Linked DNA regions of Homo sapiens. The protein of the gene in region 3 purifies or fractionates together with the protein of the main gene of each other region. This does not show direct contact. Each region holds a gene or a part of one and is shown on either strand. Other genes may lie near its edges. The genes, in order: SLC25A13, TTC5, BCKDHB, LARS2, NNT, KATNIP and ACBD3.

Region 1 (3,500 bases), on a different chromosome or scaffold from region 3:
TATGATTATGGTCTGGAAAAAAATCAGTTCCTCAACTCCTCTATTCTGGGGCTTTCTAGAAGTAAAGAGAATTGGGGAAAACGATCAGATACTCCTGCAGTTTTTCACCATAGTACATGAGAACGTTCAGGATCCTGGTTATCTTTTCTTCTATCTAAACTATTTCCCTCCTACTGAGGTTTAATCTATCTCCCTTGTTTTAGTCTCAGCAACAGTAGCTGGTTATAAATTATCATTTTTGAGGTGTGGAACTAATTCATTCATTAACCTCTTCTCTAGGATACCTACACGTCTATCTTTTTGTCATATTTTTCCAATTTTCTAAGGTCATCAGTTGTTACTGTAGCACTCTCAAGTCTCTAACAATTCTCTCACCCACCTTAGATCCAGTGTGTGTCGCCTCAGTCTCAGATTACAATGCCCTGTGCTCACTAAAGTTAGCTCACTGTAGATTTCTGGAGATTGGCTAACCCAACAAATGATCTGTTGAAATCTTCTGCTCATTCTTATGTGGCTTCCTATAACCAAATACATGTCTTCTGATATTTTTATAGCTTAATGCTCTAAATGAAAACGTGCAGAAATTGGCCAAGAAAATAAAGACTCAAACCTATCCATTTTGCAATCATTAAAAGTTTTGGTGGACATGGATGGACATGAGTGCAGTTCACAGATTAACTATGGTTTGTTTCAAGATGCATGTGTTCTTAAGTAATGCAAAACAGTCATGGAAATTTCAATCATTTTATTTTGGTGCCAGAATTTTAAAGTTTATTTTATCCCCATGAATTATGCAAGAATGAAGAATCTCACTGTGATTCTAAAGAATCTGGATACTCCCTTTTATAGTACCATCAATGATAAGGGACCTGGCTTAAACTAGCTGCCTGCCAAAACTTCCCTCTGCAATATAAAAGTATCAATAACTCCCTGAGATATCACCACAACATCCTCTAGATGTCACCTTGAGAACATTCCAGGATGGAAGATGACTGCTTTGCACTACACAGACAACTTGAAATAGAAATATTTACAACTCTGCAAGCTTGGATCAATGGGCTGATTAAAAAATGTGGTTTTTTTTTTGCCAATTTCCTCAAAGGTTAAGCACTGCTTAAATTAAGTTTAATTCATAAAATGATCTAATTACTCTTTCTGGGAGATTTTCTTTAGGGCTTCTCCCATCAATAGAAACAAAAATTTTCGTCTAAGAAGTATTTCTGATAGACCCTGATTTCTATCTCTTTTTTTTTCTAAATTGAGACAGAGTTTCACTCTTGTCTCCCAGGCAGGAATGCAGCGGCACAATCTCAGATCACTGCATCCTCCTGGGTTCAAGCGATTCTCCTGCCTCAGCCTGTAGCTGCGATTACAGGCCCGCCATTATGCCCAGCCAATTTTTGTATTTTTAGTAGAGACAGAGTTTGGCCATGTTGGCCAGGCTGGTCTTGAACTCCTGACCTCAGGTGATCCACCCGCCTCGGTCTCCCAAAGTGCTGGGATTACAGGCATAAGCCACCGTACCCGGCCATATTTCTCTTAATACATCTTTTTCCCCAAGATTCTCCCAAAACATTTTCCAGTGTCTAAGGCTGCTCATCTCATCACCTGAAAGATCTGAGAGAGAAGACTGCAACAAAGTTTAAAAGCAGAAATTATTTATTCCTGGAACATTAAGAGCATTTAATTATGGATGATTACCCAATCAATTGTTGTTCTTTAATACGCCAGATCTATAGCAGGCCAATGACTGATTCATTTGGTTATGCCAGTCATTCAAACCAAACAAGTTGTCAGGTAATTCATTAAGGATTTCAAATACCTGAGCACATTAAATCACTCTGAAGACTGGGGAGGAAACAGAGAAAGAATTTTAAAAGTGACTTCAGGAAGACCTGGATTATCTCAGGTGTGATTTCCCTTAATACAGACAGGCTTGGCCTGGGGGTTGGATTTTCAGAAATAACAACAACAACAACAACAACAAACTAGGAAAATTTGCCATTTTCTTGTTAGGAAAAAAGTAGTTTGCACTGTAGAGAAGGTTTGCAGAGCCAGACTCATGGGATTTTTAAGGAGCTCTTTTCCAGCAACTAAAACTTACACAAAAATAGGAGAGAGGCTCCTGGAAATAAAGAAAACGGAGTTATACCAATACATGGAGAGCAGGAATTAACCAACTCACAACACCTCTCATGACTCTCTGAGGTATATTTCTATTGAAGAGCACTGCTAGGCACTCTCTCATGACTACCAAGCAACTTCCACAACTATTCTGATGCAGCCAGCTGCGGGGGAGGCAAAGAACAAAACTTGTGGTGGAGCACTACAAGAGTTCTTTTAAAATAACCTTCATTCTAATGCCACAGGGAAAGGCTTTTAAATGCAAAAACAGCTTCTGATATTCTTGTTATAAGAAAAAGAGATATTTATTAACCTCATAATAAGATCGCATGCTACAAAAACACCTTCTTTGAGGCCAGATGCCAACTTTTTTCAAAGTATACACAAAGGTAATTTTAAAGTAGGAGAAAGATCTTACAACTGCAACATTCCCAAATTATCTCATTCAGGAAATATGAGCAATTACATAGGCCTTGATAGAGAAAAATTACATGTTGAGCAAAATTCTGTAATACTAAAAACTATGCTCAATATTTAAAAACATGTATGAATTAAAGATGTACTCTGATACCTTCTCAAATATTGCTAGGTGAAAGCATTAATAGCAGCAATACTATATTTTCCTAATTTAAACGTAACAGTTTTCCTCTGGAATAATATAATTTTAAAATAAAGTTACATTTTATGAGAAATGTACAAAGAATCACATATAGGTATTTCATAATGTGACTTTGTACATAAAGGTGATAATACTGAGTCTCAGAAATATGTCAGGTCTTTTTTACTTATATTGTAATTTTTTAAATTAACAACAATAACCATGAGTTACCTACATTTTCATCTGATCTCTCTTACCCAATAAGCACTTACAAATATGCAGTTATATACAATTATTAATTATTGATGATGTACAAGAAACTAAAGAGAACTGATCCCTGACCAATCAAGAATAGGAACAAGTCATTTTCATGGCAAAGTTATGTATCATTATTATTTTAACCTGAACTGTCAGTCATCATTTTGCTCTCAAGATGATCCAAATTACAGAATGGGACTAAACAAAAATTTTACAGTAAATTTTTTGTTTTAAAATGGTTTACCAGAAAAGATATCAGGAAGAAATGAACACAGGTGACTCCTAGAACTAATCTTATATTCACACTCTACTCATCATCCTGACAGACAGCTCTGTCTCTTGCCCTTAAGGTTGGGGCACCCAAAGATAAATGGCCATTTCTAAACCAGGAAAAGGGTGAAGAGCTGCCACTTGGGTGTTTACAGTGAGCCTCTGTCTGTACCTAATATATTGACTTACTACTCCTCTGAGAAGTTAAAAGCAGTCACTCTCATCTTACAGATAAAAGAACTGAAACGGC
Region 2 (3,225 bases), on a different chromosome or scaffold from region 3:
TGCTAGAGACCAGCTTTCTTCCATTTTCCCATTCTGTCATTCCCTAGGGGTGGTCTTCACTATGGTCCAAGATGACAGAGCAATACTGTTCTAATAGTGTTACTAGGCTGAAGGACCAGAGAGAGTTAGATAAATCCTCAGTTTCTTTAGAGTCTAGTGACATGTTTTATAACAGTTTATCTTAATATCCTTGTGGTAAAATGGAGAAATGTGAGTGAGGATTAATAACCAATTGAATTGGCCTGGCACGGTGGCTCAGCCTGTAATCCCACCACTTTGGGAGTCCAAGGCGGGTGGATCACGAGGTCAGGAGTTCAAGATCAGCCTGGCCAAGATGGTGAAACTCCGTCTCTACTAAAAATACAAAAATTAGCTGGGCGTGGTGGCAGGCACCTGTAATCACAGCTACTGGGGAGGCTGAGGCAGAGAATTGCTTGAACCTGGGAAGTGGAGGTTGCAGTGAGCCGATATCATGCCACTGCACTCCAGCATGGGCGACAGAGCGAGACTCCGTCTCAAACAGCAACAACAACTGAATGGCTGTAATACATTAATGTATACAGATGAATTGAGAAGTCTTCTAGTGAAATGGCTCAGATCTTTGTTCTTGGTCCAGTCCTGTTCAGTTTTTGATCAGTGCCTTGAATATCATTGATGACTCATTAAATTTATAAAGAGTGCAGAGGCCTCCTCAGAGAATGGATGGTAGAAATGCATTGATGAGAGAAGTTTTATCTATCTATCTGTCTATCTATCTATCTATCTATCTGTCTCTATCTAAGAAGTCATAAAGGCTGAGTCTAATAAGATAAAATTTTCAGTCCATTCTTTTGGTCCAAAAAGGCTTACATTCTCAGGTATAGCTTCAACATCATATATGAATATTACTAAGAATCTTAGTAGATAAGCTAAAGTCAGTATGAGTAACCAGTCTGATATAGTTTGCAAGAACACTCTTCATGGACTGCACCAAAAAAACCTATGGTAGCAAGAGACAGTTTTTATTAGAAGTACTGTCTGTTATACCACATATGGAGTCTTAAATTAGTTTTGGGTGTCATTTTGAGGCCTAGAGTCATAGAAGAGTGATTAGGAGCTTGTGGGGTATAAAAATAACTTGAGAATTGGCTGAAAGCAACTAGGGAAGATGGGGGTAGTAGTATGTGTAAACATTTGAGGCAGTAGAGATGTGGGACCCAAATACTGTTCCCCTTTTACTCAAATTCTGAGATGAGTTGACATGTTCTGTGTAGGGCTAGAGAGTAGAAAAATGGCCAGTAGGTGGTAGCCACAGAGAAGCAGTGCGTACAAACAAGTAAGTATGCAAAATTTGTACATACGGTTTCAGGAATAACTAGAATACCCATAAAATATCCACCTGCCTTAAAAACTAGAACATCATTGATAACTTGGAAGCCCTTGCATACCTCTCCATGATCTCATTTGTCTTCACAGCTATATAAATCTCATTGTATGATTATACCATAATTTATTCATCCTGTTGTTAAAGGATATTTGGGTTTCCAGTTTTTCTTTTTTTACTACCAAAGCACTACATTATTAATATTCTTGTATATGTCCTGATATGTAAGTGCAAAAGTTTCTTTTACAGCAATGGCTCTTGAAGAGTGGTTCCCAGACCAGCAGCATCAGCATCCCTTGGAACTTCTTTGAAATGCAAATTCTCAAGCCCCCTACCCAGACTTACTGAATTCAAAACTATGTGGGAGGAGCCCAGCAATCTGTGTTTCGCAAACCCTCCAGGTGACTCTGATGCACAGTAAAATTTGAGAACCACTGTTTAAGAGTATTGACATAGAATGGAATTGCTGGATCATAGAGTATATACATGTTCAACTTTTTTGAGAAGCACTAAACATTTCCAAAGTGCTTATATTAGTTTATGTCTCTACTATCAATAGATGAGTCACCCCAATGCTCCCCATCCTCTTCTGTGCTTGGTATTATCTTTTAGGTATTGCAAATACAGGAGATTTGAGTATTATTTCCTTGTGGCCTTAATTTGCATTTCTGATTATTAATGAGCTTGAGCATCTTTTCATATATTTAGAAGCCACTAATATTTTCTCTCGGTAAAATGCCTATTCGAGTCTTTGCACACTGCTGTATTGGATGTCAAATTGATTTATATATTCCCTGTACTAATCGTTTGTCTACATACAGTTTTATCCTGTTTTTTTTTTTATTCTATTGGGTCTTTTGCTGAACAGAAGTTCTTAATTTCAATGTCATTGAATTTATCCATCTTTTATGATAATGCTTTTTGTGTTTTAAGAGGTTCTTAGCTCTCCTAAAGTCATAAGGACATTTTCCCTCTACTGCTTTATGAAGTTATTTTGTCCTTTTCTTACAGTATGACTTTATTTTATGTTATGTACGGATATAATTTTTTTCATAATGAGTAAATAGCCCAGCACCTTTTATTAAAGAATCAATCCTTTCCCTACTGATCTTTAAAGCCCAGTCTGTCTTTTTCTTTTTTTGAAATTGTCTAGCTTTTTAATTTTTACCAACCAGATGATTATAAAATATCACATAGTAGGCATAAATTACATTTCTTTGTCCATTCCTGTTTCTTTTTCTATGAAATCTCTGTTTTCTTTTGTCCAATTTTTATTGGGTTGTCTTCTTATTGATTCCTTACATGTTCTGGATACTAATCCATTATAAATTATGTTTTTCAAATATATTTATCCAAATCGCAGCTTGCTTTTTCATTTTCTTAATGCTCTCTCTTTTTTTTATTATTATTATACTTTAAGTTTTAGGGTACATGTGCACAACGTGCAGGTTTGTTACATATGTATACATGTGCCATGTTGGTGTGCTGCACCCATTAACTCATCATTTAGCATTAGGTATATCTCCTAATGCTATCCCTCCCCCCTCCCCCCACCCCACAACAGTTCCCCGAGTGTGGTATTCCCCTTCCTGTGTCCATGCGTTCTCATTGTTCAATTCCCACCTATGAGTGAGAAAATGTGGTGTTTGGTTTTTTTGTCCTTGCGATAGTTTGCTGAGAATGATGGTTTCCAGCTTCATCCATGTCCCTACAAAGGACATGAACTCATCATTTTTATGGCTGCATAGTATTCCATGGTGTATATGTGCCACATTTTCTTAATCCAGTCTATCATTGTTGGACATTTGGGTTGGTTCCAAGTCTTTGCTATTGCGAACAGTGCTGCAATAAACATACGTGTG
Region 3 (3,500 bases):
AGTGAGAATTGAATTATACGCTAATAAAATTGTACCTAGTGGTTCGAATGGATCGTCTAAAGGGTTTATCAAACTTCTCTAATTTGAAGGGTCTCAAACTCCAAAATCTGCCTCCTTGTTGGTGGGCACAGCTCTTTTAACTGGGAGAGATTATTTGCTGCTGGGCTTTTGGAGTGTCCTGTGGGCACAAGTGTTGGCAAGGATTTGATCAGTTTTTGCACAGATTTTGGGGCTCCTCCATGCTGTGCCCTTCTTTTAGGGATTTAGTCTCTCAATTTTCAACCACTGGTAGCCACAGACTATTTTCTGACACCTCAGATCAACCAGACTGAGTCTATTTGTTTGAATTTTAGCTGTCCTGACTCATAGACTGGGGAGTCCTTTTGCAGGACAAGGCTTATGAACGTCATGGTCATCCACTGGGCTTAATTTCTTTCAAGAGTCAAGACTCCAGTTTATGCCTACTTTTGGCCCTTCAATGCCTTTAAATAGTTGTTTGTTTTATTTTGCCCAGAGTTTATAATCATTAAATGTGGAAAGGATAGTCTGAAAAACGCAACTCTGACATTACGTTCAGAACCTCAATAAGATATTTTGTATAGTTTTTTCATTATTATTCAATTTAAAATACCACTTTCTAATTTTCATTATAGTTTCTTCTTTGAGCTGTGAGTTACTTAGCTATTTATTAAAAAAAATTTCTAGCCAGGCCCGGTAGCTCATGCCTGTAATCCCAGCACCGTGGGAGGTCGAGGCGGGTGGATCACCTGAGGTCAGGAGTTCGAGACCAGCCTGGCCAACATGGTGAAACCCCGTCTTTCCTAAAAATACAAAAATTAGCTGGGTGTAGTGGTGGGCGCCTATAATCCCAGCTACTCGGGTGGCTGAGGCAGGAGAATGGCTTGAACTCAGGAGTCAGAGGTTGCAGTGAGCTGAGATTGCGCCATTGCACTCTAGCCTGGGTGACAAGAGCAAAACTCCATCTCAAAAAAAAAAAAAATTCTAACATAAGAATTTTTTGAATGATCTTTTTATTGATTTCTAACTTAATTACACTATGGTCAGAGAATATATGTAATTTTCATCTTTTAAAATTTGTTGAGATTGGATTTGTAGTCCAGTATATGGTCAATTGATGTCAGTGTTTTCTGTTTAATTGAAAAGGATTTGTATTCTTTGCTTCTGGGTGCAGTGTCCTTTGTATGTCAGTTAGGCCATGTTTGTTGAACATGTTTAAATCATCTCTATTTTTCACACTCCCTCCTTTTTTTTGGTATGCCTTTTTTGTCAGTTATTAAGACTAGTACATTAAAAAATCATCTCCCACTATGTGGTGATTTTGTCCATTTGTCCTTTTAGTTGTGTTGCTTTTTTCCATTTATTTGGAGCCCATTGTTAGATAAGTATAGATTTAGAATTATTTATTTCTTGTGAATTGAACCCTTTAACAGTATGCGTTTTCCCTCTTTATCTCTGGTATGTTTTTTTCCTGAAAGTCTACTTTGCCTGCTATTAATATAGTGACATCAACTTTCTTTTGGTTAGGTTTTTTATTGTCTATTTTTTCCTTCTTTTTTCTTTTTTTTAACAACCTTTCTCTGTCTTTAGAGTTTGTGTTTCCTTTCAAATAGTTGGGTTTTCCTTTCTTTTAAATTAGTGTGACAGTTTTTATTTTCATTGAAACATTAGATTACTTACAATTAATACAATTATTAATTGGATTTAAATAATTCACCTTACTATTTTTTTTTAATAGAGACAGGTTTTCACTATGTTGGCCAGGTTGGTGTTGAACTCCTGGTCTCAAGTAATCCTCTTGCCTTGGCCTCCCAAACTGCTAGGATTACAGGTGTGAGCCACCGTGGCTAGCCATACTCTTTATTTTCTGTTTCCTCTACCTGTTCTATACTTCTCCATCCCATTATTAGTTTACTGAATTTTTAAATGTATTATGCATGACATTACTCTCATTTGCCACATTAACCTTTTTTTCTTTTCTATTTTAAGGAAAAGATAGAGTTTTTAATACCCCATTGTGTGAACAAGGAATTGTTGGATTTGGAATCGGAATTGCGGTCACTGGAGCTACTGCCATTGCGGAAATTCAGTTTGCAGATTATATTTTCCCTGCATTTGATCAGGTAAGTGAATGAACATTTCTAAGGTTGTTCATTCATTGAAATATTCAAGTATTGCCGCTACCCTTCCACCCACCCTTACCTGCATTCTAAACATTTTATTATCCTTTTACTAATGTATTACAATTATAATTTTGTTATGAGCATATATTTAAAGATCTAATAGAATAGTTTAAGCAGATAGATTGGGATTGGGTGAAGTGGCTCACATCTGCAATCCCAGCACTTTGGGAGGCCAGGGTGGGAGGATCACTTGAGGCCAAGAGTTCAACACCATCCTGGGCAACATAATGATAATGAGAACCCATATCTACAAAAACTACAAAAATTAGCCCAGTGTGGTGGCACATACCTGTCATCCCAGTTACTCTGGTGGCTGAGGCAGGAGGATAACTTAAACCAGGAGTCCAAGGCTACAATGAACTGTGATCGCAGCACTGCACTCCCTGGGTGACAGAATGAGACCCTTTCTCAAAAAGAAAAGAAGAGAGAAAGAAAGAAAGAGCGAGAGAGAGGGGAGAGGGAAGAAGGGAGAGGGGAGAGAGGAGAGGAGAGAGGAAGGGAAAGACAAGACCCTGTCTCAAAAAGAAAGAAGGGAAGGGAGGGAGGGAGGGAAGGAAGAAAAGGAAGAGAGGGAGGGAGGGAGGGAGGGAGGGAGTGATGGGATCCTGTCTCAAGAAAGAAAGGAAAGGAGGGAGGGAAAAGCTCATTGTGCTATGGGAAAGGAAGGAAGGAAGGGAGGGAGGGAGGAAGGAAGGAAGGGAAAGACTCATTGTGCCATGGGAAAGGAAGGAAGAAAGGAAGGAAGGAGGGAGGGAGGGAGGGAGGGACGAGACCCTGTCTTAAGAAAGAAAGGAAGGGAGGGAAAGACTTATTGTGCTATGGGAAAGAAAGGCAGGCAGGCAGGAAGGAAGGAAGGAAGAGGGGGAGGGAGGCAGGGAGGGAGGGAAAGACTCATTGTGCCTTGGGAAGGGAAGGAAGGAAGGGAGGGAGGGAGGAAGAACGGAAGGAGATTGGAAGGGAAGGACTCATTGTGCCATGCCCCGTCTTTCTTTCTGACCCTCAGATTGTTAATGAAGCTGCCAAGTATCGCTATCGCTCTGGGGATCTTTTTAACTGTGGAAGCCTCACTATCCGGTCCCCTTGGGGCTGTGTTGGTCATGGGGCTCTCTATCATTCTCAGAGTCCTGAAGCATTTTTTGCCCATTGCCCAGGAATCAAGGTATGTTCATTTATGTACTTTATTTGATTTCTATTTGATGTTTCCATTTTGATTCATTCTATTTAATATCTATGCTTATCTAGAGGAAAGAAAACAAACAGGATTCTTGGAATTTATGTGAACTTAACTGTATTTAAGAA
Region 4 (3,500 bases), on a different chromosome or scaffold from region 3:
TGCCACTTAATGTCTGGTCCCTGGACCAGCAGTACTGGCATCACGTGTCTTAGATCCCACCCTAGTCTAATAAGATCCCTATATGATTTGTATGCACATTAGAAGTTTGAGAATACTGGCTTAGAGCACTCTTAAACTTAACTGCACATTGGAAACACCTGAGAGTTTTAAAATAATACTGATGCCTGGGTCTCACTCCAGATACTCCGATTTGATGGTTATTGGTGGTGAGGGGGGCATGGATCAGACATCAATAGTGTTCAGAGCTCCCTAGTTGATTCTGATGTGCAGCAGAGTCTGGGAACTACTGACTTAACATAGTGATGCCACACCTGGCCATGGCTCTGAATCACCTGGGAGGTGCTTACAGGTCCCATCTTGGCTGATCTTGATTCAGTGAGACCTGAAGATCCAAGTTTTTCAGGTTTGTGACTATCTGGCTATATTTATATCTATAGAATAAAGGAATAATGGTCAGGTTTTCTCCTTTGTAAGGAGTCCATGTTTTATAACCCCATGTTTGTGGCTTTACTTCATAAACTGCATCCCCAGACATGAGTCATGCTCTAAGATATGGACCCTTAGGCCTTTTTTTAGACCTTGTTTGAGCAGGTTTCCTGGAGGTAGAGCAGAGCGAAATCACAGTGTCTGTAAGGAGCCCCAGTTAACCCTCTACAGGGCAAGAAAGGGGACACTTGTGGCCAAAATTAGGCTTCTGAAGTGCCTAGTGAAGCATCCACTCTTTAGTACAGTACTCTGAGCATTAATTATGCTTCCTGGCTTCTTTCACACAGCTTCAGATGGTCTGTTGAAGCCTCTCCTGGCTCTAGGCTGAATATCTAGAGTAAAATAATTATTTCAATAAGTAGAAGGAGAATGGCTGGGGAAAAGCCGCTTTCATCTATGAGCTTCTGGAATGGAAAGACAGTGGTGTTAGGAGAAGACTGACTTTCAGGAGAGCTTTTTATGATTTGCATCACGACTGTGATAATGGGAGTGCAGAAAGACACTTCAGACCATTCATGAAAAGGGCTGCTTTTGATAAACATAGCTGTATTTTCTTATTCTTTATGCCTCTTGACTGTAAGCTCCTTGAGGACATGGGAAGATCATATTTATCTTTGTGGCCCCAATGGCTAGCACGAGCCCAGCACGTATAGATGCCCAGTGGGTCTTCACTGAACAAATGCGAGGGTACCCGCAATCCAGGTTGTTACCAAGCCACACTGGCTCAATTCATATAATTAGTTTGGCTCTCTGAAAAGCACCAAGTGAAAAGATAATTTCTCTTTTGTACTGTTAGTGGTCTGTCCTGCTGTCTATAAAACGGGAGCATTTAAATATAAAAAGAGTGGTCTGGTTCTTCAAGCCGAAGCCTCAGAATGTTCCTCTGCTTGCCTGAATTCCTTCTGCTTTAGGATAATATTGGATTTTTCTTTTCTGAATATTTTCCCCCCAACAGGGGAGTAGTCATTAAAAATCCATATCGTGCAGTTCTGTACTGGCAGCTAAAAGCTGATATTTGATGATCTCTGTAGGTGTCACAGGGCTCTGGTGATAAAGCAAGCCACAGAACCAGGGCCAACTTAGACACATTAGACACAGTAGACACAGTGCCTAGGGCCCACAATACTTTTAGAGGCCTCTGCAAAAGTTTTAATTTCTTTTAAAATCAGAAGAAAAAAATGAACTTTTAGGGTCAAAAGTTATATTTGTCTTTATATTGATGCAGTTGTAAAATATAATTTTTAATATTATCTGAAGGAGCAAGGAGCCTACAAAGGCAGAAGCACCTAGGGCTCATGAAAGTTATGACACAGCTCTGCACAGAACTGGTCCCTTGGGAGAGCCACACATAAACATGGCAGGACTGGTGGCAGCATCAGGGTGGTGACTGGTGCTATGCGGAGAGGAGTGAGCTTTCTTTTCTTTCCCTGTCAGTTCACAGGTATGACCCGGCAGGATGCTTTTCTAGCCCTGACTCAGAAAGCCCGGGGGAAGAGAGTGGGTGGAGACGTGACAAGTGATAAACTGAAAGACTGGCTGATTTCACGGCAGCGGTACTGGGGCACACCAATCCCCATTGTCCACTGCCCAGTCTGTGGCCCCACACCTGTGCCCCTGGAGGACTTGCCTGTGACCCTGCCCAACATCGCGTCTTTCACTGGCAAGGGAGGCCCCCCACTGGCCATGGCTTCAGAGTGGGTGAACTGCTCCTGCCCAAGGTAAGGAGCCACATCCCTGCAGTGGTGACTGTGCCTATGGCCCCATACCTGCTAGGGCTTCAGACAGCCTCCTCCCTCCTGGTGCTAACTCTGCTCCCTTTTTCCCTGACTTCCATGAGGCTGGAAAGAACACTGTGGGTCTTTGGGGCCCTTTAAGAGAAGGGTCTGGAATCTGTGGCCCTGCCTCTGCAATGGGCATCCTCCCTTCTCTGAGCTGTTGGAAGCAGCAGTGTCAGTTCAGATCTATCCCAGAAACATCTGATCCAACTGATGGAAAAGCTCTAAATTTTCCTTACAGCTTTGTAAAAAACCACTTTCCTCCATTTTGATATTCCAAAGAGCCACGTGGAGAGGGGAGAAAATGTTCTCTTCTCCACCTTGCAGTTTTCCAATATAGTGACTGTAACAACAGTGGAGATTTTATCATGAGTAGCAGAGTAGTTGCTAAGAGAGCAAGTGTGCTCAGGGCTGCATTCTTTAATATGCTGAAGCACCATGGTTCCTTTCTCCTCATTTTGGAAGTGGGATTATGTTTTTCTGTCTATTCACTGGCATGTCTCAAGCATGATTTTTAATGATGCTGTCCATATCAGCTAATTAAACAAATAGCAGATACCAAGTTCCAGTATTTTCCTTCTTCTGCGGAGAAGCCATTTTTCTCTGCCTTATAGATCATGATGAGGATATTATAAAATAATTTTGTATTCTGCCAGTATAGAGCTGAGTTACTAGGTTGACAATTAGGTAACCACGTAGTGTAATTGGAAGTCTTGAGCTGGGTGTCAAATCAGTGATGGATTCAAGTCCTGGCTCTGCCTCCTAACTAACTGTCTAGCCTTGGGAAAGTCATTTACCTTCTCTGAGCGTGAAATCCCTCATCAGGAACAAAAATAACCCCATTGAAGGGCTTTTCAGAAGACTAGAATTAACACATGTGATCCTGCACAGTGATACCTTCTAGGCCTTCAATAAATAGAAACTTTATGGCCATCCAGCCAGGGACTTGCCAGCCATCCTCCCAGGTCCTCACTGAGGCAGTTTTGAAATTCAAGGTGGAACTTGGAGGGAGGTATATAGGAAGGCCCAGACCATTTTAGGGTAGAAATGTTGGCTCCAGGAGGAAAATAGCACACCCTCTTTGTTGATAAGCGCTGACAAAGGGCTTCCCTACCAGAGATGTTGGTGGCCTGCATACAGCACAGCAGTTGTGGCCTTATTGATGAGGATAAGGTTTCCTGCTTGGCTGCAGAATTACTGGAGGGCAGAACCTAGGCC
Region 5 (4,078 bases), on a different chromosome or scaffold from region 3:
GCAGCAACTCCTGACCCCTACAAAAAGTTTTAAATCAATAACTTAGTTTAAAATCCTTACTAAGTGGGATCATTACTAATCTCACTTCATTGTACCTTCAGTATCTGGAAACCGTCCCTATGGTCACACTTACCACGGCTCATTATTATTTTAAAACATGGGGCTGTGTCATTTCCTGTCTGTGAGTTTGGACTGCAGTGGGAATCCATTAGTTGAATGACCTTCTGTGTAGGTTAATCACAAGACAAGTTCTCAAACTAAGGGTTTCCCTGCGGCTCATTTCTTTTTAAAGTTATGGAATACCTGTTCTGCTTATACCTTTTAGATTCATAATTATTTTTCTTGTATCAAAATTTCAATTAATAGAAATAAATGACGTTACTGACACTTCATGATGATTAAGTTTTGGGCAAGTGAACCATTTTACACTCTATTTTTTATTCCTCCCACTTTTAGTCAGAATACACCTGCAGAATAAGTAACAGAACTGTGTGAAAAGAACGACTAGGTCATTACGGTTAATAGTTTTAGAAAAACAGCCGAGGCCTGGTCTGGAAAGCTCACAACCTCCACCCAGATGCTTTCCAGCCTCGGGGATATTCGTACTAGCAGTGACACTAGCCAGCTTCCTCTAGGCTGGCTCTGATGTTGGAAGACAAGCACGCAGATGTGTGTTACTTTTCAAGCCTGGACATCGTTTCTGAGGAATTTAACTCCACCTCTCCTGCCAGAATGGAAAATCAACGCCCCCCATTCCCGCCCTTCACCAACCCCTCTCCGCCTGCCCCTTTCCCTTGGGTCCTCTCTGTTACAGAAGTTCTGATTTTTCCTAGCGAGCTGGAGGAAAGGCAGGTACCCGGAGTGGAGTTATATTACCTGTTTCTTTGTTCTGATGGGACCCCAGAGAGGACATCACGCTTTGTAACTGGTTCTTCAAGGGGAGAAGCAAATGTGTCCCTGAAAACTTCAGCTGCCGCGTTTGGCACCAGGTTTGATTGACAAGGACTGGCGGAGGGAAAGCGCGGAGGCTGGGCTGGGGGCCGCAGGCCGAGGCAGAGACAAAGAGGTTTCGCCTGTCCCCGAGAGTGGAAGGGCCCCTGGGGGTAACTAGCCTTTGAGCTCAAAGGGGCATTTCGTGAGGTCGCCTTTTGGTTCGGAGAGCGCGCGGCGATCGGGTGGAGGGGGCCTGGCGGGAAGAAAGCTGGGGCGGGGAAGGGGCGCGGGCCGAGGTGGGAGCGGAGCTGCAGTCACGTGGCCGCCCGCCGCCGCGGAGTTGGGGCTGTTCTTCCGGGTTGGAGGCGCAGCGCCGCGGGGCCCAAGCCCGGGTCTGCCAGCGCGACGTCCTCTCGCGGCCCTCAGGGCACAGCCCAAGGCTGTCAGCCTCCCGGCCCAGGTGAGCGCGACGGCACTGGCGGGTGCGGGCAGCCGGGGCGCGCGCCTAGGGCGCAGCTGGGAAAGGGGCTCGGGCCTTTCCTGAAGACCACGGCCCTCGCCGGGAGAGAGACCTGTCAAAGAGCAAAGCGGGGCGGGGTCGGCGGTGTCCCGGGCGCAGGGTGCATTGGGGTGTCCGCAGGCCGCAGGCTTAGGTGGGGAAGAAGCACCGTGCCTCTTGGTGTCCCTTTCTCGTCTCCTGCTGGGGCGATGTCGAAGGGAGTGGGCTGGTGGATTTGGGAACTGGGTCCCCGAAGAGGGCAGGGAATGAGGCGGCAGCTGTGCAGGTGCAGATATTTGCAGCTTTGGGGGACAGCGAGAGTCGTACGGGGTCATTTCGGCCCTCAAGATCGGGGGTGGTGGAGAGGGAGGTCATAGAGGACTTTCGATGGGCGGTTCATCCAGAGAGGTGGCAGCTGGATGCCCTTGAGGTATGCTTGACCCTTGAGGGAGTTCGGAGAGGGTGTCCGGCTGGGGACATAGGAGATTGCGAGCACAAATTGTGAGTGTGAGTTGGGGCGGTCTGGCGGTGGTGGGTACAAGTTTCTGGGGCCTAGGCTGGTGAGGAGGAAGAGACAGCGGAGAGGGCGACCTGGGCAGAGCTAGTTCAAACTCAACAGCCGGAATGACTATTTGCAGCCGTGGCCAATCGGCTTCCTAGGGAGGTTATAAATAGCGGTCTCGTGCAGATGCCAGCGGGTGGCAGTTAGTTGCCGAGCAAGGGACGGCACCGGTGGCAGTAGCCGTGACACCAGTGGCTTTGGGTGAGGTCACGGCGCCTGCCAGCCGAAGCTGGCTCAGTAGGGTATTGTGTCCTTGCTGGTATGTCTCGCTTTTAAAAGCGTGACTTGTTTATGGTTGCCGGTGTCCTTTATTCACCCTGTGGCGCCGGCCAGTCCTTAGGTGGTCTGTTTGTCAGGAGTCTTGTAGGACAGACTTATTCGGAGAAGCGCGTGGGGCTTAGGTGCCTACCTACTCTTCTTATTTAAAGTGTGCCCCTTTTCTTCATTGCACCCCTTTTATTTGTAAACCTTGACTTTTTATTAACAGACAGTTTAGGATTGCCTTCTTTCCAGCAGGTGCGCTTAGGCTGCTTACCTTGGTGATAGAATCAGTTTTCCACAAGGCTACACAAACATTTCCTTTTCAAAGGAAATTTTCCGAAAATCCTTGGAAAATGTGCTCAATAGGTACTTAGGCTTAAGGTCACCTAGCCCTATTCATTCAGTCAAAAATACTGACTTCCTCTGTGTTGTGCAAAGCACTGGGGGAGAGTAATACCAAAGTGAATATAACAGCTGATAAGGATATTCTCAGTCCTGGCAACAACCCTGAGAGGTAGGTGCTGTTATTTTATTTTTTCAAGTCTCGCTCTGTTGTCCAAGCTGGAGTACAGTGGCACAATCACGGCTTACTGCAGCCTGGAACTCCTGGGCTCAAGTGATTCTCCCACCTCAGACTCCCAAGTAGCTGGGACTTCAGGCTTGCACCACCATGCCCTGCTAATTAATTTTTTTTTTTTAGCAATGGGGGTCTCACTGTGTTGGCCAGGCTAGTCTTGAATTCTTGGCCTCAAGCAGTCCTCCCCACTAGCCTCCCAAAGAGATGGCATTATAGGCGTGAGCCACCACCCTGGGTGGGTGCTATTATTCCCCATTTTAAAGATGAGGAAATTAAGTACAGGGAAGTTAAGTGACTTCCCAAGGTCACACAGCCAATAAGTTGCAGAGTGGGGCTTCCAATCCGCAGATCCAGAGCTGACTCTCTTAAATATCTGTGGTATCCTCCCTCTTTAGGTTGGGTGCTTTCCCTCAAGGATTTTAATATCTAATAGGGGAAATAACCCATATAAGTTACATTAAACATACATATGAAAGCAATGCTTAAAAAGTTGTGCTTTTGGGCCGGGCGCGGTGGCTCACGCCTGTAATCCCAGCACTTTGGGAGGCCGAGGCGGGTGGATCATGAGGTCAGGAGATCGAGACCATCCTGGCTAACAAGGTGAAACCCCGTCTCTACTAAAAATACAAAAAATTAGCCGGGCGCGGTGGCGGGCGCCTGTAGTCCCAGCTACTCGGGAGGCTGAGGCAGGAGAATGGCGTGAACCCGGGAAGCGGAGCTTGCAGTGAGCCGAGATTGCGCCACTGCAGTCCGCAGTCCGGCCTGGGCGACAGAGCGAGACTCCGTCTCAAAAAAAAAAAAAAAAAAAAAAAAAAAAAGTTGTGCTTTTTTCCCCTAATTTTGAGTTATAAAGTTTTTTTCTTATTGCTTCAAAGCCACAGGAACACATGGATAAATGAGAGCTTTACAGTGAAGATGGAGGAAAATGTGATGATTAGGATGGAGTATTATCTTTTGTATAAACCTGTACAGGTCAATGATAAGATAGTTTAAATATTCTCTATCTTTCAGGGCCATTTGTATTTGGTTTAGACTTAGTGATATGTATTGCTTTTGCCAAGAAATGACCTCCTGATCTCTGCCCTGTATGTTCACAGTTGAATCAAGTGAAATTTTTCACAGAAATGGGCCTATGAAGGCTTTGGCCCTACTGATGTCTGATGCCCCTGCCAAGGATCTGCTGAACATCAAATTACCATTTTCCAAGTAGAAGGAACAAATTTTCCAGATTTCAGGCCATGAAATA
Region 6 (3,701 bases), on a different chromosome or scaffold from region 3:
CAAATGCCTGGTCGTCAGATGCAGGCGAATTTCCCACCCAACCATGAATTCAGAACCTGCTGGCAGTGATTTCAGTGTCACCCTGAGCAAATAGAAAGTGGGTTTTCTTTCGTCTTTTCCTCTAGAATCCCACTGGTTTGGGGCGGTGACCCTGGGATGGGGAAAACAGGGACCCTGGATACCAGAGACCCAAGTTTGCCTCCAGCTCTGCCACTTGTGCTAATGGTATTAAAGCCCCTCGGGCCTCAATTTCCTCATCTGCAATGCATGCTGATAGCTCCTGCCTTTCCCAATGGTTGTGAAGATCTGAAATCACAAGGCAGACACAGCACACAGTAGGCGCTTGTTCCTGACAGCCCCGTCTTCCCGAGGAGAAAGCCTTGGCTCAGAGCAGTAACGCGTTCTGCCCAAGGTCAACGTGGGAGGGACGAGGGGGACCCATGAGTCCTGCCCCGTGTCCCTGCAGCTCCTGGTGGACGACCTGCTTGTGTACAATGGGATCCTGGCCATGGTGAGCCACCTGGTGGGGGGCATCCTGCCCACATGTGAGCCCACCGTGCCCTACCACACCATCCTCTTCACCGAGGACAGGGACATCCGCCACCAGGAGAAACACACCACCATCAGGTAGGGCCCCAGCCGGCCCCATGGCCTCCCCACCAGCCCTAAGGAGGATGGATGGCTGGGACACACGGCCAGGAGCCTGATCGAATCTTGTGTTTCCTTCCTACCCTCAGTAATCAGGCCGAGGATCAAGATGTCCAGATGATGAATGAAAACCAAATCATTACCAACGCGAAACGGAAGCAGAGCGTTGTTGACCCAGGTCAGTGGCGTTTCTCTGCCCAGAGCATTGTGCCTTGGGAGCTCGGTCTGAATATAGAAGGAGCTGGTGGCCTTGCACCCCCACCCTCACCCCTGCCTGCCCCTAGACCGCTCTCCTCTGCCCAGGAGCCTGCCCAAAGGCCTAGGGAGGGACTGAAGAGGATGGAACCAGGGGAGCAACATGCTTCCATCTTCTTGCAGGCACCTGTAACACAGTGGAGCTTCCTGAATCTAAGTGTCGTGGGCACAGAGTGGGGAAGCAGTCAGGGACAGAGCACCATGTTAAAGGGGTTTGCCCCGGGCCGTGGGAAACCAATAGAGGATGCCCAAGGTGAGGGCTTCCCGGAGGAGGTGATGTTTGAGCTGGATCCTAAAGGATGTGAGGAGTGTGCCAGGCAGCCTGGGCAAAGGCTGAGAGGGGTGTTGTGGCAGAGCCTGCTCCAGGCGGAGGGAAGGGGCCAGCGTGCCAGGCGCCCCGAGAGCAGGGACTTTTCCAAGGGCCTTGAATGGCAACCCAGGCTGCTGGATTTCACTGGGGAGTGTGGGGCACCCCTCCAGGGTTTGAGACTTAGTAACTCTGGTCCCTCTGTTCCCTGTCATGACAGCCTTACGTCCCAAAACCTGCATCAGCGAGAAGGAGACGAGACGACGGCGCTGCTGACTGGTGAAGGAGGGAGAGCTGGTCCTCCCACTATGGTGGGCTCCGTCAGCAGCCCCACTCAGTGCCTGCGTCCCTCACCCTCAGTCCCAGGAGCTGGAAGCGAACCACAGTGTTGAGGGGAGCCCGCTGGGAAGAGGGGACTCGGGAGGACAGCCCTGGATACTACCAGAGTGACAGATGGCTGTGGCTGCAGGGCAAAGAGATCCCCTGCAGTTCTGGGTTGGCCACAGGGAGCCCAGGACACCCGCCTTCATGCCTCTGCTGTGAGACCCAGCAAAGCAGGGCCCATGACCACTAGGGCCTGGGCTGACCCTGACTCAGAACAGGACAATGACGGGGTGGGGAGGCATCCCATCCAGCCTCAGAGGGCCCAGAGAATGGCTGAGCAGGACAGTGGGAGACCAGACCCTACCCCGCAACTCCAGTAAGCAGGGCACTGCCCAGGGAGACTGCCTTCAGAAACCTGAGCTTCAGCGGCCAACACCCCCCATCCCCTGCGCATCCTTGTCTCATTTGGGGACTGGTGGAGCTGGCTGAGAGGTTGGGGTAGTTTCCTGGTTACAGGGGTCCACAAGACCCTCTCTCATCCCGGTATAGGGGCCTCTCTCCTCTCATCGGGCCTGATAAGGGATTGGCCAAGGCTGTGTGCATCCTGCAGAGGGAAGGAAGTCAGCTGGGCCACCCGCCATCCACCTTGGCAAGAGCTGGGCCCACTCTGGCAGGCCAGGGTATCATCTGCGTGCTGCTGCCGGGCCAGGAAGGGTGGGTGGGTGGCCAGCAGGCTGGCAGCTCCAGACCCCAGAGGGCCAGAAGAACTCACCCCAGTGCCCTCTGGATGCAGGTGTTGGGGAACACTGAGGACAATCCCCCATCTCCCCTCACCCTTGAGCAGGCCCTCCCTGCACTCTCTGCCACATGTCCCTCCTGGTCTGATCACGGCTGTGCTCACTGATGTGGCTGCTTTCTGTCTCTGCCCCTGTGCCCTTGGAGGCAGGCAGTGAGGTGCTCCTTTCCCAGGCCCCCACCCCTTCTCCCCCTTCAGCCACTTCCCAGCGAGTTGGAAATGTGCCTTGCACCCCCAGCCGAGTGAAGCCCAGAACGCATCTATATGCATCGATGTAACAAGCTCGGATCAGGGACCTAATTGGTTTCCCAGTAGTGGGTAATTTCTCGTTGCAAATATTAATCCGTTGTTTTTCTGGCGCCCAGCCCGGCCCGCCGCAGTACTGTACTCGAGGTACGTTCCTATGCAACCGAGAGCCCCGGCAAATACTTCATGAGCTTAGCAGCCTGGGCTCGAGCAGCTATGCAAACGCGCTTTTCATTTGGAGCACGGGGCTGATGTGAAGATAAGAATTGTTTCTCCTGGAGAAAGATCCATCATTTCTCCAGCTTCCAAGCCCCCGGCACCTCTGCTCAGCTCCCAGATGTGACGAGCACCTCCCGCCAGGGGGAGTCAGGGGTTGATCAAACCAGCTCTTGTGACCCAAACCAGTGCCGCTGCATTAAAGGGAGGCCCAGCTACTCCTTCCCAGCTGAGATGTGGGTACAGGTCAGATTTGTCAGGGAGATGGCACTAACACGACACAAGCTCACTCCCAGAACCGCAGCTGATGTTTATAATAATCGTATGTACTGTGCAATTTAGGAGGGGAAAAAAAGGCTGTACAAGCTTTAACTCTAAAATAAATTTCTATTTTTTTCCTCTTGCAAAATTAATAAAAGATGTTATTAAGAATATAGTCCGAGTCACCGGATTTGGGGTCAGATGGGGAGTCCATGCTGCCTCCAGGAGCTGAGTGACACAGAGAAGCCCTCACTGAGCTGCAGATGGGGTCATGATCTCGCCCTGACTACTCAATGAGATTGTCCTGCCGTATGAGCAGACAACAGTAGCTCATCCATAGAGAGTGGTGATTACATGCCTGGCTCTAACTTGTTTAATCCACGTAACACAACCCTTTGGGGTGGGCACTATTATTATCCTCACTTTACAGATAAGGGAGCTGAGACACAGAGAGGTTGTGCAGCTTTCCTGGGACACACAGCTTTGGAAGCTATTAGCCAATGCACAAATCCTGAGAGGGCCCCTGGAGAGTTGAGGTGGGGGTGACAACACTTGGGTCTTTGGCCCTGGGGTTTCCCTTCACCATGTGTGGATCCTGGAATGGTGGCCCCCAGACCCCCAGTTCCTGGACCTCCTCCCTGCCCACCC
Region 7 (3,500 bases), on a different chromosome or scaffold from region 3:
CTAACACTTCATGGTTAGGGAACACTTTCTTCATTAGTGGGACCTTGGGCTGAAAATGTTATGAGGCCAGGCTCCTGTAGGGGACTGGGGCCTAAACCTGAATTTTTCTGAATGCCAGGAAAATCTATTTGGCAATTTGCTATTTTACTCCTTTCTGAATACTATTTTACTTCTAACCGTGTGTGTTGAAAAGCCAAATATGCAAGATTACTTCAAAAAAAATTTTTTTTTTTTTGAGACAGAGTCTCACTCTGTCACCCAGGCTGGAGTGCAGTGGCATGATCTCTGCTCACAGTAGTCTCGGCCTCTTAGGTTCAAGCGATTCTCCTGCCTCAGCCTCCTGAGTAGCTGGGATTACAGGCACGCACCACTGTGCCCGGCTAATTTTTTGTATTTTTAGTAGAGACGAGGTTTCACCATGTTGGTCAGGCTGGTCTCGAACTCCTGACCTTGTGATCCACCCGCCTCGGCCTCCCAAAGTGCTGGGATTACAGGCGTGAGCCACAGCACCCGACCCACTTTGAAAAATTTTAAAGGAGCAAGTAAGAATTCCTGTCAACCCTGGCATTTATTTAAATTTATATTGTTGATATTAGCATTTTAGGTCATTATTCTAAAATTTTTTATGTAAATACAGAAACTCACCAGAATAGTCCACTTAAAAAAATTTCAATTATTTTTCCATTTGGAAATCCCTATTTTGCTAGAGTGGAATTTTTTTACTTCCTCTGAATAAGTAGACAAAATTGGGTGTTTTAAAGGACAGTCTAAAATATCTTGGTCTAAGAAATAGGTTATAAATGTATTGCTTTTTGAGAAGAGGGTCTCTTTATTTTTGTTACCCAGGAAAGTTAGAATGTAGGGTTTGTTTATATACACTTAATAAGCACTTAATTTATTTGTTGACTTGATTGAAAGTGATATGGAATGCATGCCCTGTGAGAATGGAAAAGCACCATGTCTCAGTTCTTCCAGACTAACTGACCTTTCAGGTGGCTTGTAAACAGACTGCTTGTTCTTGAAGAGGGTTGGCAATGTTGCTTTACAGATTACAGTGGGATAAAGTTAAAAAGATATTATTGAAAGTACATGGAATAAGCCTGAAAGTTCTATCAACTTGTGAAGTACAGAGTTGTCCAATCATATTACCATACCATGCAACACCCTGGGGCCTCTGGGGCTATCTACAGAAACATACACTGCAGGTGTGCCATACATTTCTTGAAATTAAGTTTAATATTCAATTTAACAGTTAATATTTAATGCTAATCAAAAGATAATCCAAAGATAATTCCGTATCATTATCTACATGAACCATCAGAGTATCCCAGAAATTTCAGTACATCTTGCAGATTGACTTTTACCCCAGAAGCAGATTTAAAATCCTTCATTATACCACAGGTCCAGATTCTAGCTGGTAAATATGGAAGCATGAGCTGCTTTGTCTTACACGGCATTTTGTTTTCATCAGTCTTTATTCCTGAGTACCACCAGCAAGGCAAAGCATTGCTCATAAATAATACTGACTGAGACAGAAAGAAAAAATGTAAGATTGAAAAAGCCTGGGCCGGACGCGGTGGCTCACGCCTGTAATCCCAACACTTTGGGAGGCCGAGGTGGGTGGATCACAAGGTCAGGAGTTCGAGACCAGTCTGGCCAACATGGTGAAGCCCTGTCTCTACTAAAAATATAAAAATTAGCCGAGCGTGGTGGTGGGTGCCTGTAATCCCAGCTACTCGGGAGGCTGAGGCAGGAGAATCACTTGAACCTGGGAGGCAGAGGTTGCAGTGAGCCGAGATCACACCACTGCACTCCAGCCTGGGCAACAGAGCGAGACTCCGTCTCAAAAATAAAAAAAAGAAAAAGCCTGTCTGGGCATGGTATCTCATGACTGTAATCTCAGCTTTTGGGGAGGCCAAGTAAGGAAGATCTCTTGAGGCCAGAAGTTTAAGACCAGTCTGGGCAACCCGTTTTGTAGAGTGACACCACATCTCGACAAAAAAAATTTTTTTTTAGTTAGGTGGGTGTGGTGGCATGTACCTGTAGTCCCAGGTACATGGGAGGCTGAGGCAAGAGGATTGCTTGAGTCCAGGAATTCGAGGCTGTAGTGAGCTATATGATCACACCACTGCATTCCAGCCCGAGCGACAGAGCTAGGCCCTCCCTCTAAAAAAAAAAAAAAAAAATTAAAAAAAATAAAAAGCAGTTAGAGAGCAGGACTGTAGCAGATTAGCCAGGGGGCACTACTGTTTTCTCATGTGACCTTCAACAACATCAGAACCTGTTCTGTCCTTTCTGTTGCATCACAGGGACTCATTAAAGTCAGACTGTCTGCAGATGTCTGGGAAGGAAAGTTTTTTGTATGCATACAAATTACTGTACTTACAAAGAGCTTTGTGAGGCCAGGCACGGTGGCCCCTGCCTGTAATCTCAGCACTTTGGGAGGCCAAAGCGGATGGATTGCTAGAGCTCAGGAGTTCAAGACCAGCCTGGGCAACATGATGAAACCCTGTCTCTACCAAAAATACAAAAAACTAGCTGGGTGTGATGGTGTGCACCTGTAGTCCCAGCTACTTGGGAGGCTGAGGTGGGAAAATTGCTTGAGCCCAGGAGGTAGAGGTTGCAGTGAGCTGAGATCAAGTCACTTCACTCCAGCCTGGGCCACAGAGCCAGACCCCATCTCAAAAAAAAAAAAAAAAAAAAAAAAAAAAAGATGGCTGGGCGCAGTGGCTGACACCTGTAATCCCAGCACTTTGGGAGCCTGAGGTGGGTGAATCACCTGAGGTCAGGAGTTCAAGACCAGCCTGGCCAACATGGTGAAACCCCATCTCTACTAAAAGTACAAAAATTAGCCAGGCATGGTGGCACATGCCTGTAATCCCAGCTACTTGGGAGACTGAGGCAGGAGAATCGCTTGAACCCGGGAGGTGGAGATTGCAGTGAGCTGAGATCGTGCCATTGCACTCCAGCCTGGGCGACAGAGCCAGACTCCGTCTCAAAAAAAAAAAAAAATGAAAGAGCTTTGTGAATAAGAATTCTCTGTTCAGAAGTTGGTTGAGGTAATGTATTTCTCCTGGCTTGCCTATTAGAGAGCTTCTAAAAGGTGGTTACTGCCTAGTCTGAACCCTCAGCTGATGATAGTTTTGGGGTTATATTGGTGTTGGGAAGATCACTAGTGAAAATGGCAGGGGTTCATTTCTAGAGGTAAGAACCTTAATATCCTTGATCTTAGTTCTAATATGTCCCTCAAATGAAAGATGGCATTCCCTGTACTTGTACCATTCCTAATCATAAAATGATTTGCAGCTAAAACATTTTAGCCTCACAGCAGTGAAGCTTTATCATTCCTAAGAATTGTTCATTACATGAGCGTCACTTCATCCCATTTAAAGATTTAGCTCACAAATTGTATTTGTCCATATGCCTTAGAAGCTACTGTCCTACCGTGTCTTGTATTTCATATGGTAGAAGAGTCTGAGTTTTTTGGGTTTTGGTTTGGT

What was found.
Region 1: the proteins of BCKDHB (region 3) and SLC25A13 fractionate together in Homo sapiens (co-fractionation; one large-scale study listed by BioGRID). This does not show direct contact.
Region 2: the proteins of BCKDHB (region 3) and TTC5 purify together in Homo sapiens (affinity purification with mass spectrometry; one large-scale study listed by BioGRID and IntAct). This does not show direct contact.
Region 4: the proteins of BCKDHB (region 3) and LARS2 purify together in Homo sapiens (affinity purification with mass spectrometry; one large-scale study listed by BioGRID and IntAct). This does not show direct contact.
Region 5: the proteins of BCKDHB (region 3) and NNT fractionate together in Homo sapiens (co-fractionation; one large-scale study listed by BioGRID). This does not show direct contact.
Region 6: the proteins of BCKDHB (region 3) and KATNIP purify together in Homo sapiens (tandem affinity purification; one large-scale study listed by IntAct). This does not show direct contact.
Region 7: the proteins of BCKDHB (region 3) and ACBD3 purify together in Homo sapiens (pull-down; one large-scale study listed by IntAct). This does not show direct contact.

What each region holds. Positions count from the first base shown.
Region 1 is NC_000007.14:96,179,099-96,182,598, forward strand, and holds part of SLC25A13 (electrogenic aspartate/glutamate antiporter SLC25A13, mitochondrial), read right to left. Parts: intron 1-3,500. UniProt on the Homo sapiens protein: Mitochondrial electrogenic aspartate/glutamate antiporter that favors efflux of aspartate and entry of glutamate and proton within the mitochondria as part of the malate-aspartate shuttle.
Region 2 is NC_000014.9:20,285,727-20,288,951, reverse strand, and holds the end of TTC5 (tetratricopeptide repeat protein 5), read left to right. Parts: 3' UTR 1-2,725; downstream 2,726-3,225. UniProt on the Homo sapiens protein: Cofactor involved in the regulation of various cellular mechanisms such as actin regulation, autophagy, chromatin regulation and DNA repair.
Region 3 is NC_000006.12:80,165,671-80,169,170, forward strand, and holds part of BCKDHB (2-oxoisovalerate dehydrogenase subunit beta, mitochondrial isoform 1 precursor), read left to right. Parts: intron 1-2,007; coding exon 2,008-2,141; intron 2,142-3,204; coding exon 3,205-3,360; coding exon of another isoform or gene 3,361-3,387; exon of another isoform or gene 3,388-3,500. UniProt on the Homo sapiens protein: Together with BCKDHA forms the heterotetrameric E1 subunit of the mitochondrial branched-chain alpha-ketoacid dehydrogenase (BCKD) complex.
Region 4 is NC_000003.12:45,489,576-45,493,075, forward strand, and holds part of LARS2 (leucine--tRNA ligase, mitochondrial), read left to right. Parts: intron 1-1,941; coding exon 1,942-2,225; intron 2,226-3,500.
Region 5 is NC_000005.10:43,601,902-43,605,979, forward strand, and holds the start of NNT (NAD(P) transhydrogenase, mitochondrial), read left to right. Parts: upstream 1-1,278; 5' UTR 1,279-1,393; exon of another isoform or gene 1,394-2,769; intron 2,770-4,078. UniProt on the Homo sapiens protein: The transhydrogenation between NADH and NADP is coupled to respiration and ATP hydrolysis and functions as a proton pump across the membrane. May play a role in reactive oxygen species (ROS) detoxification in the adrenal gland.
Region 6 is NC_000016.10:27,777,144-27,780,844, forward strand, and holds the end of KATNIP (katanin-interacting protein), read left to right. Parts: intron 1-466; coding exon 467-627; intron 628-737; coding exon 738-826; intron 827-1,430; coding exon 1,431-1,486; 3' UTR 1,487-3,201; downstream 3,202-3,701. UniProt on the Homo sapiens protein: May influence the stability of microtubules (MT), possibly through interaction with the MT-severing katanin complex.
Region 7 is NC_000001.11:226,148,742-226,152,241, reverse strand, and holds part of ACBD3 (Golgi resident protein GCP60), read left to right. Parts: intron 1-3,500. UniProt on the Homo sapiens protein: Involved in the maintenance of Golgi structure by interacting with giantin, affecting protein transport between the endoplasmic reticulum and Golgi. Involved in hormone-induced steroid biosynthesis in testicular Leydig cells.